Regions from separate parts of the Homo sapiens genome. Here region 1 is reported to be linked to region 2. The links are microRNA targets in miRTarBase. Many come from high-throughput screens and were not tested one by one. Region 2 holds a microRNA gene; the other region holds the end of a gene's coding sequence.

Region 1 (5,075 bases), not on the chromosome of region 2:
CCAAGATGCCTCCACAGACAGAACAATTTAAAAGAGCCACTTCAAACCTTCCTCCACCCAATCCCTGTATCACGTGGCTGCAGTACACTGTCCTAAGGCATGTATCATAGCTGACATGCCTGCTTTATTTACTTAGTTTGTCTTCCAACCAACAGTATAATGAAAGCTCCACAAGGCAGGCATCTTTGCTATCTTGTTCCTCACTCTGTCATTAGCACCCGGAAAGATACTTGGTGTGCATTAAATAGGTATTCACTGAATGAATGCACAATTGCTCCGAAATTGTACGCATAGGGGTGTGTGTGTGTGTGTGTGTGTGTGTGTGTGTGTATGCATGCATTTTTCCCCTGGGCAAAGTCCCTGGCTTTAAAAACAGATTGATAACACCTCTAAGAGTCATTGAATAAATCATTAGGGTAGAAACTCTGGGGTCTTGCAACTTGCCACCAAAACATGGTCCCCAGACCAGTAACTTTGACATCACTTTATAGAAATGAAGTTTCTCAGACCTCACCCCGGAGACACAATCTAAATCTACGTTTTAATGAGATACTCAAGTCACCTGTATGCACATTAACATTTGAGAAGTACTGTTTCCAGGCAAGTAAAATACCGTAATTTTAGCTCACATTCTTCATAAGGTCTTGGCTGGATATATTTTCAAGGAAAAACAAATGCTTGTTAAATACTCAAACAGAAGATACTATAAGGCTTAAAGTTTAAAATGGAGTTTTGAGTTTCTTGCAACTGAGGTAGGAGACCAGAAGAACTTGTTTTCTGGTCACCACCCTGCTGACCAGAACAGGATCTGGTCCAGGCAGTAAAAAGTGAAGAAACCAGCAGGGACAAGGAGATGTCAAGAAAAGCGATCCTCAGCTGTCTTCATTGTTTATTAGCATAAGCCACTCCCATAGTGCCATGACAGTTACAAATGCCATGGCAACAACCTGGAAATTACCACCCCTTTCCATGGCAATGACCCAGAAGTTACCACTCCTTTCCTAGAAAGTTCTAAATAATCTGCCCCTCAATTTGTATTGAGCCTCCCCTTAATTTGCATGTGACCGAAAGTGAGTTTAACTGGGTATAAATGCAGTTGCCAAGAGCCAATACTTTGCCAACTCTGGGCACACCGTGTATGAATTAGCCCTGCTCTGCAAGGGGCAACACTATTTACCAAAAGACTGCTGTTTACCACCATGAGCTCACCCTTGAATTCTTTCCTGGATGAAGCCAAGAATCCTCCTGGGCTAAGCCCCAAGTTTGAGGCTTGCCTGCCCTGCATCACAACCATTTCCAGAATTAACATTATCCTCTATTTATCAATATACTACTTTTGAAAAACACCATTTGAGTCAATGATCTATGATGCCCTACTTCATGAAAGTAGAAACCTGCTTTGTTAGTTCTTAATCTTGGGTGACAAGGGAATCACCCTGGGGGGGGAGGGGGGTTTATAAAAATATTGATGACTACGTTTCATCCCTGGAGACTAATTGATCTGGGGTGTAGATTGAGCATGGGTATTTGAAAATGGCTCCCAGATGATTCTAATATGCAGCCAAAGTTAAGAACCACTATATTAAATAACATCTACTCCCTTCAATCATTCCTCAAAACTCACACTCCCAAAAGATGGATGAGATAGGGAAGGTCAAAAGATCTTGGTTTGACCAAATCTTCTTTAAAGCATTGCTGTCTCCTTTTTCCTTTCCCCTGCTCCCTATTGAAGCCTTATAGAGTTTGATTGCACAGGAAAGATTTGGGAAAATTAGCAAATATAATATATTGAAGTTAATGGGACTGGTGGAGAAGTGATTTATACACAGGGGAAGGGGGAGAGCCAGGATGAACTCAGTGCTGTTAAGACTGCAGAGACATTCTTAGACATTCATAGTTTTTAACATAACTGTGTAGATATATCCAGAGGTAGACAGACTATCTCTATATAAAATTCACATCATGAAAGACAAGGAGAAGCTGAGGAATCAACAGGAGGCTAAAGAAACATGACAACTACATGCAACACAATCCTGGATTGGATTCTTGAGCCATTATTGGAATATAAACAAAACTTGGATTGGATGATAATATGGGATTATTTCCTGTTTTGTTTGAGACAGGGTCTCACTCTGTTGCCCGGACTGCAGCATAGTGGCATGATCACACATAATTGTAACCTCAACCTCCTGGGCTCAAGCAATCCTCCTGCCTCAGCCTCCCCAGTAGTTGGGACTTCAGGCACACACCACCACATCCAGCTTATTTTTTTTCTTTTTGTAGACACAAGGTCTCACTGTTGCCCCAGTTGGTCTTACATGACCCTCCCACCTCAGCCTCCCAAACCACTGGGATTACAGGCATGAGCCGTCGCACCCAGCCACATTCCCTGGTTTTGATGGTCATTATTGTGGTTATGTGGGAGGGTGGTCTTGTACTTAAGAACACACATTGAAGTATCATGGAATAATGGGGTATCAGGTCAATGTAATCACAACCTCAAATAGCCCAGAAGCCTAGAAACATTAATGATTAATTTGAAGTGTTATGAAAGTTCTGTGTACCATTTCTGCAACTTTTATGTAAATTAGAAATTGTATCAAACTATCACTCTTCTGCTTGAAATCTAATAGAACATATGCCCAGACTTGTATGTAAATTTTCATAGCCACTTTCTTAATAGCCTCAAATTGGAGAACGCAAATGCCCATTCATTGGTGGAACTGCTGATATAGGCAACAGCAGATACATTTCCAAAGCATTCCAGACAGGGCGAAACTGTTGGGACAGAAAGCAGATCAGTAGTTGACTACGGCCAAGGGTAGAGGGGAATAGATTGACTGCAAAGGCGTACAAGGGAAATTTTGGGGGTGATGGAATGCTCTGTACTGATTATTACATGACTATATACAATTGCCCAAACTCATCAAATGGAACACTAACATGGGTGAACTTTATTGTACGTAAATTCTAACCCACTTTAAAAAAATTCTCTAAAATAGTCCCCCATTTCACTCAGAGTATAAGCAAATCCTGAAGAAGACCTACACGACCCCTCTTACTATTCACCCCCCTCATTCTCACCCCAGGTGAGCCACCCTGGCTTTTCTGCTCCAATACAGCCACTCAAAGCATGGCCAGGACTGGGCATGGGATCAGTCTGTGAATTATTTTCAGTTCTTAGACAAGTACGGTATCCGAGAGTAAGCAGTTAGAAAATTTATCAGCAATTGACATCACTGTAATATACAAGAACATGGCCCATTTTCTAGTAATTCACTGTTAATATATTTTACAAAAGTACAGGAGCTTGACTACTGGGATTAAAAAAGTTATTCAGAAGAGTCAGACTAACTGTGACAAAGTTATAGGAAACATTTTTTTCCTCTTTATGTATGCATAAGAGTGATGTGATACTGTCTACGTAAGTCTAAAAGTCTTTCCATAAGTAGACAATAAAAATTCCAAGTGATAAAGGTTTTGTTCAAGGAATACTAAAACAGGAACACCAGAAAAATAAGTACTGTTTTCTTTTTTGTTGTTGTTACTATTAATATGTACCATACTTGTAAAAACAAATTGTCCACTTCTGGAGATACCCATGGTTTACTCAGCAGAGGACTGAATCAATAGCCTTAAACATAAATCAAAAGCTAAAGAAAATGGGCTTTGGAAATATTTGAACATTGGTGTTTAAGAATTACAAAGAAGTAGCAAGCTTAGCACTGGCAACTCTTTATTAATCAGTCTATTTGTCTTAAGGGGGAAAAGAGACTATAGATCAAAAAATTTTTACCCTGGAGGTCTTTCAATAAAGAGATTGCATATTAACCTTAGAACAGTCCTGCCTCATGAAGGAAACAGCATTAAATGCAAAGTGTGAAGATAGCATTCCCTTTCTGTTTTCTCAGTAAACAGTAAGAACAGCCTTTATTTAATACTGAATGAAGAAAACTTGTGGAATCCCTACTAGCAGCAAAATAATATATTCATTTCTTAAAAGGATACAAAGATCAAATTTAGATCCTGCCTGGGTCTCATTTTCTTCTAATACCCAGAACAATCATTGTTACCATTAATACAACAGTCATCTACTAGCTTCTGTGATCTAATTTTACTTAACTTTTATTGAATGGTTCAATGATGTTGTATAATTAGCTCCTCCAAAGTAACACTAGAAAAGCATCCTATTACACAAGTTTATAAACCTTAAGTGTGTTCTAGACTAGAAGTCATTTGATGATAGGGAGATGGGTCAATCAAGAAAGCATTATATACACAGAATACAAATAAAAGTTTATTGTACAAAATTAAGGCCTTCGTATTTCATAGTTCACCAAGGCTAAAGAAACACTGGATAATTTAAGTCCTTCACAAAAATTTCACTTTTACTCCTCCTCATCTCTAACTATTAAAATGACCCAGCCAAATGTTATCAAAACAAACACTGTAAATAACACCAAGTCTTTTAAAGACGACTATCCCAAATGTTATTTCTTGGCATAGGTGATCTTCATAGCATGGGACGGTGTGATCTTAAATCCCTGTAAAGCATCCCTGGCAGCTCCAGCCTGCCCATCATTTTCAAATTCAACAAAAGCAATGTCATGCCTCCCTGGTACCAGACGTACTTCCTTGAAGCCAGGGAACCTATAAAGAAGAAAAACAATTCATGTATACAGCAAGTACATAAATGTTTGCTTTGTGTTAAAATTTGTTAAGCAACTTCCTAATACTAGTCCAAGAAAAATAACCATACTCTAACCAAGAATACTGAGTAGACGGAAGAGCCTCATGTGTAATTAATACCATGGAAGAACTGCAAGAATAAACTAATTCTATTTTATATTATATCAAAGCTTTGTTATTACATCAATCAGAGTTAAGAATTCAAACATTAGAGGAAATTTAGCTTTGTATTTGCTAAATCGGCAAATTGGCTCCAATTCATGATTCATCCCAAACCAAATCAATGAACCTGTAAGGAATTACTGCTGTGTGATAAATGGATTCAACCCACGGAAGTACTACTTGTCCTGTGAGGAAGCTCTCAGAAACAGACTTATTTATGAAAA
Region 2 (5,075 bases):
TTTGAACAGATATGAAACTCAGAGGTACCAGAAGTATACAGTCCACTTATATCCCCAAATACCAATTCACTTCTTTTTTTTTTAGTTTTTGAGATGGCGTCTCACCCTGTCGCCCAGGCTGGAGTGCAATGGTGCAATCTCAGCTCACTGCAACCTCTGCCTCCCAGGTTCAAGCGATTCTCTTGCCTCAGCCTCCCCGAATGGCTGGGATTACAGACGCGCACCACCATGCCCAGCTAATTTTTGTATTTTTAGTAGAGACGAAGTTTTGCCATGTTGGCCAGGCTGGTCTCAAACTCCTGACCTCAGGTGATCCTCCAGCCTCAGCCTCCCAAAGTGTTGGGATTACCGGTGTGAGCCACTGTGCCCAGCCAATATAGGCGTGTGCTGCTGTGCCTGACCTTACTAAATTTCATATACATATATTTCAGGCCTCCCCTTTGCCTGAAAACTGTCAAAAAATGCATTCGTCCTTAAGACGTGTCCTAGGAAAGGAAATTCTTTGAGTGAGTTCATACGCAAGCCATTCACTGGCTTTATAGGAATTAAAGTGATCAAACAAATCCTTGGACTATTTTTTAAACTCCCCTCCCACCTCCTAGACCATTATAAAAGATCAGAACACCTATCTCATAGTCATGAATGAATCCATGATTCAGTATACAAAATGTTTTCACTACATTACAAAATTTGCTTAAGTTTTGCCTGACTCCACCAAAACACGATCAAAGGGCAAACTATATGGCACATAAATTGAAATTTAAGTTTTAAAACAGCTTCTTTTTAAACTCCCATGCAATATACATGGGAGTATAAATTACTACACAGTAATCCAGAGGACAATTTTGCAATAGATATGCAATTTTTTTAAAGGATTCTAATTTATTGTAAGGAAATGGCTGATCAATCCTTTCCATCCTTGCTACCAATGATGTTTTCCTTCCTATAACTTAAATCATCTATTTTCAATGTCACACTTTAGATCCTGTCATCAGCAACTGTAGATTCTTTGTATTTTTGATTTCAAGCTTACCACACTTAGACCACCACCTCCTAGCTTTCCATCTCAATTACTCCAGAAACTCCCTGCAGTAATTTCACAATTTCGAGTTTAAACTAATTAATCCTACTATTTTTTCCACTATTTATCAAGTACCTCTTGGGATCACTTCCCTTTCCATCCAGCTTAGCTTTGTGTTCCATCATCATCACTTTCTTGCAAATATCCACAACCTCCCTACACTCGTTTCCCCCTACACACATACTCCTCTGGCTAAATCTTAATCTTGGTTGACCTAAACTTTCTGCATTCTCTGCTCTTGAAGCAAAATAGCTGATCATTGCTAAGAAAAACAATACCTCTGGGTTTCAAAGTAAGAACCACAAACAAATGGACATAAAGCTTGGTCCAAAATCCTTCTGACCTCCTCAACCCTTCCTTCCCATCCTCGATCCTTTGAAATCTATTTGTTGAAGCAACAAGGCTGTTTGAGACTAATTTCCCACAGTCTACAGCTGACCACATTCCTATAGTATTATTTAAAGTGTTTTTCTGCCCTTTATATTGCTACACATTGGTACTGAATTTAGGGGGCTTTTATCTTTCGAGTCACTGATTTTAGCACTATTTTTCATTAACTTAAGGTGGTATGGCTTATTTACATCTCTCTTTCTCGCCCTATATCCTTCCAAAATATTTGTATCTCAACGTTTTATTAAATTCACTGTTTTTATTATTAGGAATGATATAAGCATTACTCACTGCTGAGACATGCTACTTACTGTAATTACATTTCCTTGGCTGTGCATTCTTTTTTTTCTGGAGTTATTATTACCTTGTCATTTAGAATTTTCCCTGAGCGTCTGAGGCCTTCCCACACTTTGAAAGACATCAAAGTCCCTCTCAATATAAGTTTCCATAAAGTCAAACTCATTGGATAATTTTCTAGGCCTAGTAGAGTGACTAATGAAGGCCTCTTTGACAATGTGATATATAAGGAGACCTGAGTGAAGAGAGGGAGAAAGCCATGTGACTAGCTAAAGTTTTCCAGGCAGAGGGAGCAGTAATTCTAAATGCTCTAGAGTAGGAATATGCTTGCTGTGTCTGAGGAACACAAAGGAGATCTACATGATGAAACACAATGAACAGGGAGGGGAACCCTACAGGAGACAGTGTCAGAGGTACCATAAGCCAGATAAAGTTGGGCCTTGTATGTCACGGTAAGGAGCAACCAGAAGAAGAAAGATGATGTAGAAAAAAAAAGGAGGAGCAAGTTTGACAGGAGGAAATTACTCGATTTTGGATATGTTAAGTTTGACATCTAGGTAGAAATTATTCAGTAGGGAGCTGGAGAAATGAGTATGAGGCTTCAGCAAGAGGTCAGGACTCCATAAAAATGGAGATACTGGGAATCTATTTCTTATGCTCCTTGTTTGTGATTTTAGACAGCAGGGGGTGAAAATATTTATTCTTAAGACTATATTAATTTGGCTTTCATCCTCACCATTCTACTGTAACTTTCATATCAAAAGTCAGTAAGTAAATAACTCCATGTTGTCAAATCCAATGGACCTTCTTCTTTTCTTGAACTCTACGAAACATTCCACAGTAAACCACTCCCTCTCAAATTTATATGTACATTCCCAGCTTCCTCCCTGAACTTCTGACTCTCATGTCCAATTCGTATACTTGATACCTCTACTTGAATGTTTAACTGTGTCAGAAGTTAACCTGTAAAAACGTAACTCTTTATTTGACTACCTTAAATCTCTTCCTCTCCTCCTCCTTATTCTCATTTCAGTAAACAGTCTCATCATCCAGCCCGTTGCTCAAACTTAAAAATTAAGAAACCCTTAATTCTTTCCTTCCTCTTGTTTCTCAAAACCATCCCTGAGCAAGTACAAAAGGTATCTCAAATCTGTCTACTTCCTTCCAACTCCACTGCCTCCACCATAAAGCCATCATTCTCTCTTGGGTGAATTATTGCAATAACTGGTCTCCTTGCTTTCTTCTACAAGCATCTCTCTACCCAGCAAACAGGGAGATATGTTTAAATGTAATCCCCTACTTAGAATCCATCAGTGACATCCACTGCATTTAGAATAAAATCGGATCTCCTTATCCCTACGTGATCTAACCCCAGTCTGCATCTCCAACCTAACCTTGTCCTGTTTTCCCCTCACTCTTTACAGTCAAGTCACACCAACCCCCTTTCTGTTTCTTGAACACTCTGAGGTCTTCAAGGCTCCCAGGCCTATATCCCTGATGCTCCTCTACCTAGAATGCTCTTCCTACACCTCTTTCCATAGCTGGCTCCTTCTCATCCTTCAAGTCTCAGTCTGAATGTCATGTCCTTGGAGAGGCCTTTCCTCACTAGTCTACCTAAAGCACCCTCTTCCTTTACTCTCTACCATAACCTACTTATTTTCTTCATGATGCCCACTAAGAGTTTGATATTCATTTAGTTTATTGTTTGTCTCCCCATCACCAAAACGTAAGCTTTATCAGGGTGGGGTCCTATCTTGTATTTCTAGCACAAATATTAATAGGTACTCATTTATTTGTTGAATAAATTAACCAGACCTCTACATAAAGATGTACATACAATAACGTTTATTGTACCTTTTTTCATTTTGTAGGCTGGGGATAAATGAATAGAATAATAGTTTCTATCCAATCATTTTCCCTAGCCAGTTTCAATGTTCCAAAGTTTAATTAACAGAGCAGGGAAGCTACCCTGAACTGAACTTAACACTTTGGAATTTTGCAGCATTTTTATGCTAGCAAAAAAGTAGACACACTGAAATGTTTACCAATAGGTTTTTATTACAGAGTATTCCATGTAAGAGCTATGCAGTAAATAGAAAGATGGCCTGTGTGTCAGATATCCTTAGCCTCTTTAGAGTCACTCTCCTTCCTCTTCTCCTTGCTCTTTCTCTCCCAGTGTCCAGTTTGCATAGAATGAGTAGAACTTGACCAAGTGAACAAACACAGAGGAGGCATTCTAGCCCACATGCACATAGATCTAGGGATAAAAGTGTATGGTGTGCTGGAGAAACAATAAGTGTGTCCTCCTCTGCTCCCACTACAGCTGGTCCCCTTGTCTGTTACAATTACTATGTTGTAGTATTGTAGCCATTCTCATGTGTTTCTTCTAACCAGGCTCCTAGACTCACACTTTCAGACAACAGAGAAGCATGTCTTTACATCTCTATACCCTCAGTACCTAACACAGTAAGCTCTCTTATAGTGGCTGCAAGAAGAAATCTGCTTTTATCTATATTTTACTAGTTTAAAGGTTACTTTTTTTTTTAAGCGATGGGGTCTCGCTATATTGCCCAGGTTGGTCTTGAACTCTTGGGCTCAAGAGATCCTCCTACCTCAGCCTTCTGAGTAGCTGAGATTACAGGTGCAAGCCACCACACTTGACCAAGGTTACATTTTTAAGACTGATTTATATGGTCATTATATAGACCAAATTTGTCTGTAGAAAAATTAGTCAAACAGTGAGTGACTTAAAACTGTACAATACTGTGGCTGAGGGCATAATTAAATCTTTATTAAAACTGCTACCATTTCTTTTTGTTTTTGTTTTGCTTTCTTGAGACAGAGTCTCGCTCTGTCACCCAGGCTGGAGTGCAGTGGCGTGATCTTGGCTCACTGCAACCTCCACCTCCCGGGTTCAGGCAATTCTCCTGCCTCAGCCTCCTAAGTAGCTGGGAATACAGGTGTGCACCACCACACCTGGCTAATTTTTGTATTTTTAGTAGAGACGGGGTTTCACTATGTGGGTCGGGCTAATCTTGAACTTCTGGCCTCATGTGATCCACCCACCTCGGCCTCCCAAAGTGCTGGGATTACAGGTGTTAGCCATCATGCCCAGTTTTAAAGATATATGCCTATGATGATCTGAATCTGAACTAACTTCCAGATGTCTCACTAAAGGCAATGCATTTTTTCACATAAGAATAAATTTTGGCCGGGTGCAGTGGCTCACGCCTGTAATCTCAGCACTTTGGGAGGCTGAGGCGGGTGAGGTCAGGAGTTCAAGACCAACCCAGCCAACATGATGAAA

What was found. Region 2 holds the annotated microRNA hsa-miR-664a-3p (UAUUCAUUUAUCCCCAGCCUACA, at 3,635-3,657, opposite strand). A microRNA usually pairs through its seed, bases 2 to 8, with sites in the 3' UTR of a target mRNA and lowers its output. Matches are read on the target gene's strand: a 7mer-m8 pairs with bases 2 to 8, a 7mer-A1 pairs with bases 2 to 7 and ends in A, and an 8mer does both.
Region 1: miRTarBase lists SNRPB2 as a target of hsa-miR-664a-3p. Seed matches in the 3' UTR shown: 8mer at 3,987-3,994.

Annotation. Positions count from the first base shown.
Region 1 is chr20:16,740,421-16,745,495 of GRCh38, reverse strand. It overlaps SNRPB2 (small nuclear ribonucleoprotein polypeptide B2), which reads right to left. Exons shown (of 7, transcript NM_003092.5): 7 at 2,932-4,650. The coding sequence ends at 4,491. Among named protein-coding and RNA genes, the nearest start is that of OTOR, 5.4 kb to the left of the region's middle.
Region 2 is chr1:220,196,915-220,201,989 of GRCh38, forward strand. It overlaps MIR664A (microRNA 664a), which reads right to left and starts at 3,705; the gene lies at 3,624-3,705. All of the region lies in intron 9 of RAB3GAP2 (RAB3 GTPase activating non-catalytic protein subunit 2), which reads right to left. SNORA36B (small nucleolar RNA, H/ACA box 36B) reads right to left here and starts at 3,762; the gene lies at 3,632-3,762.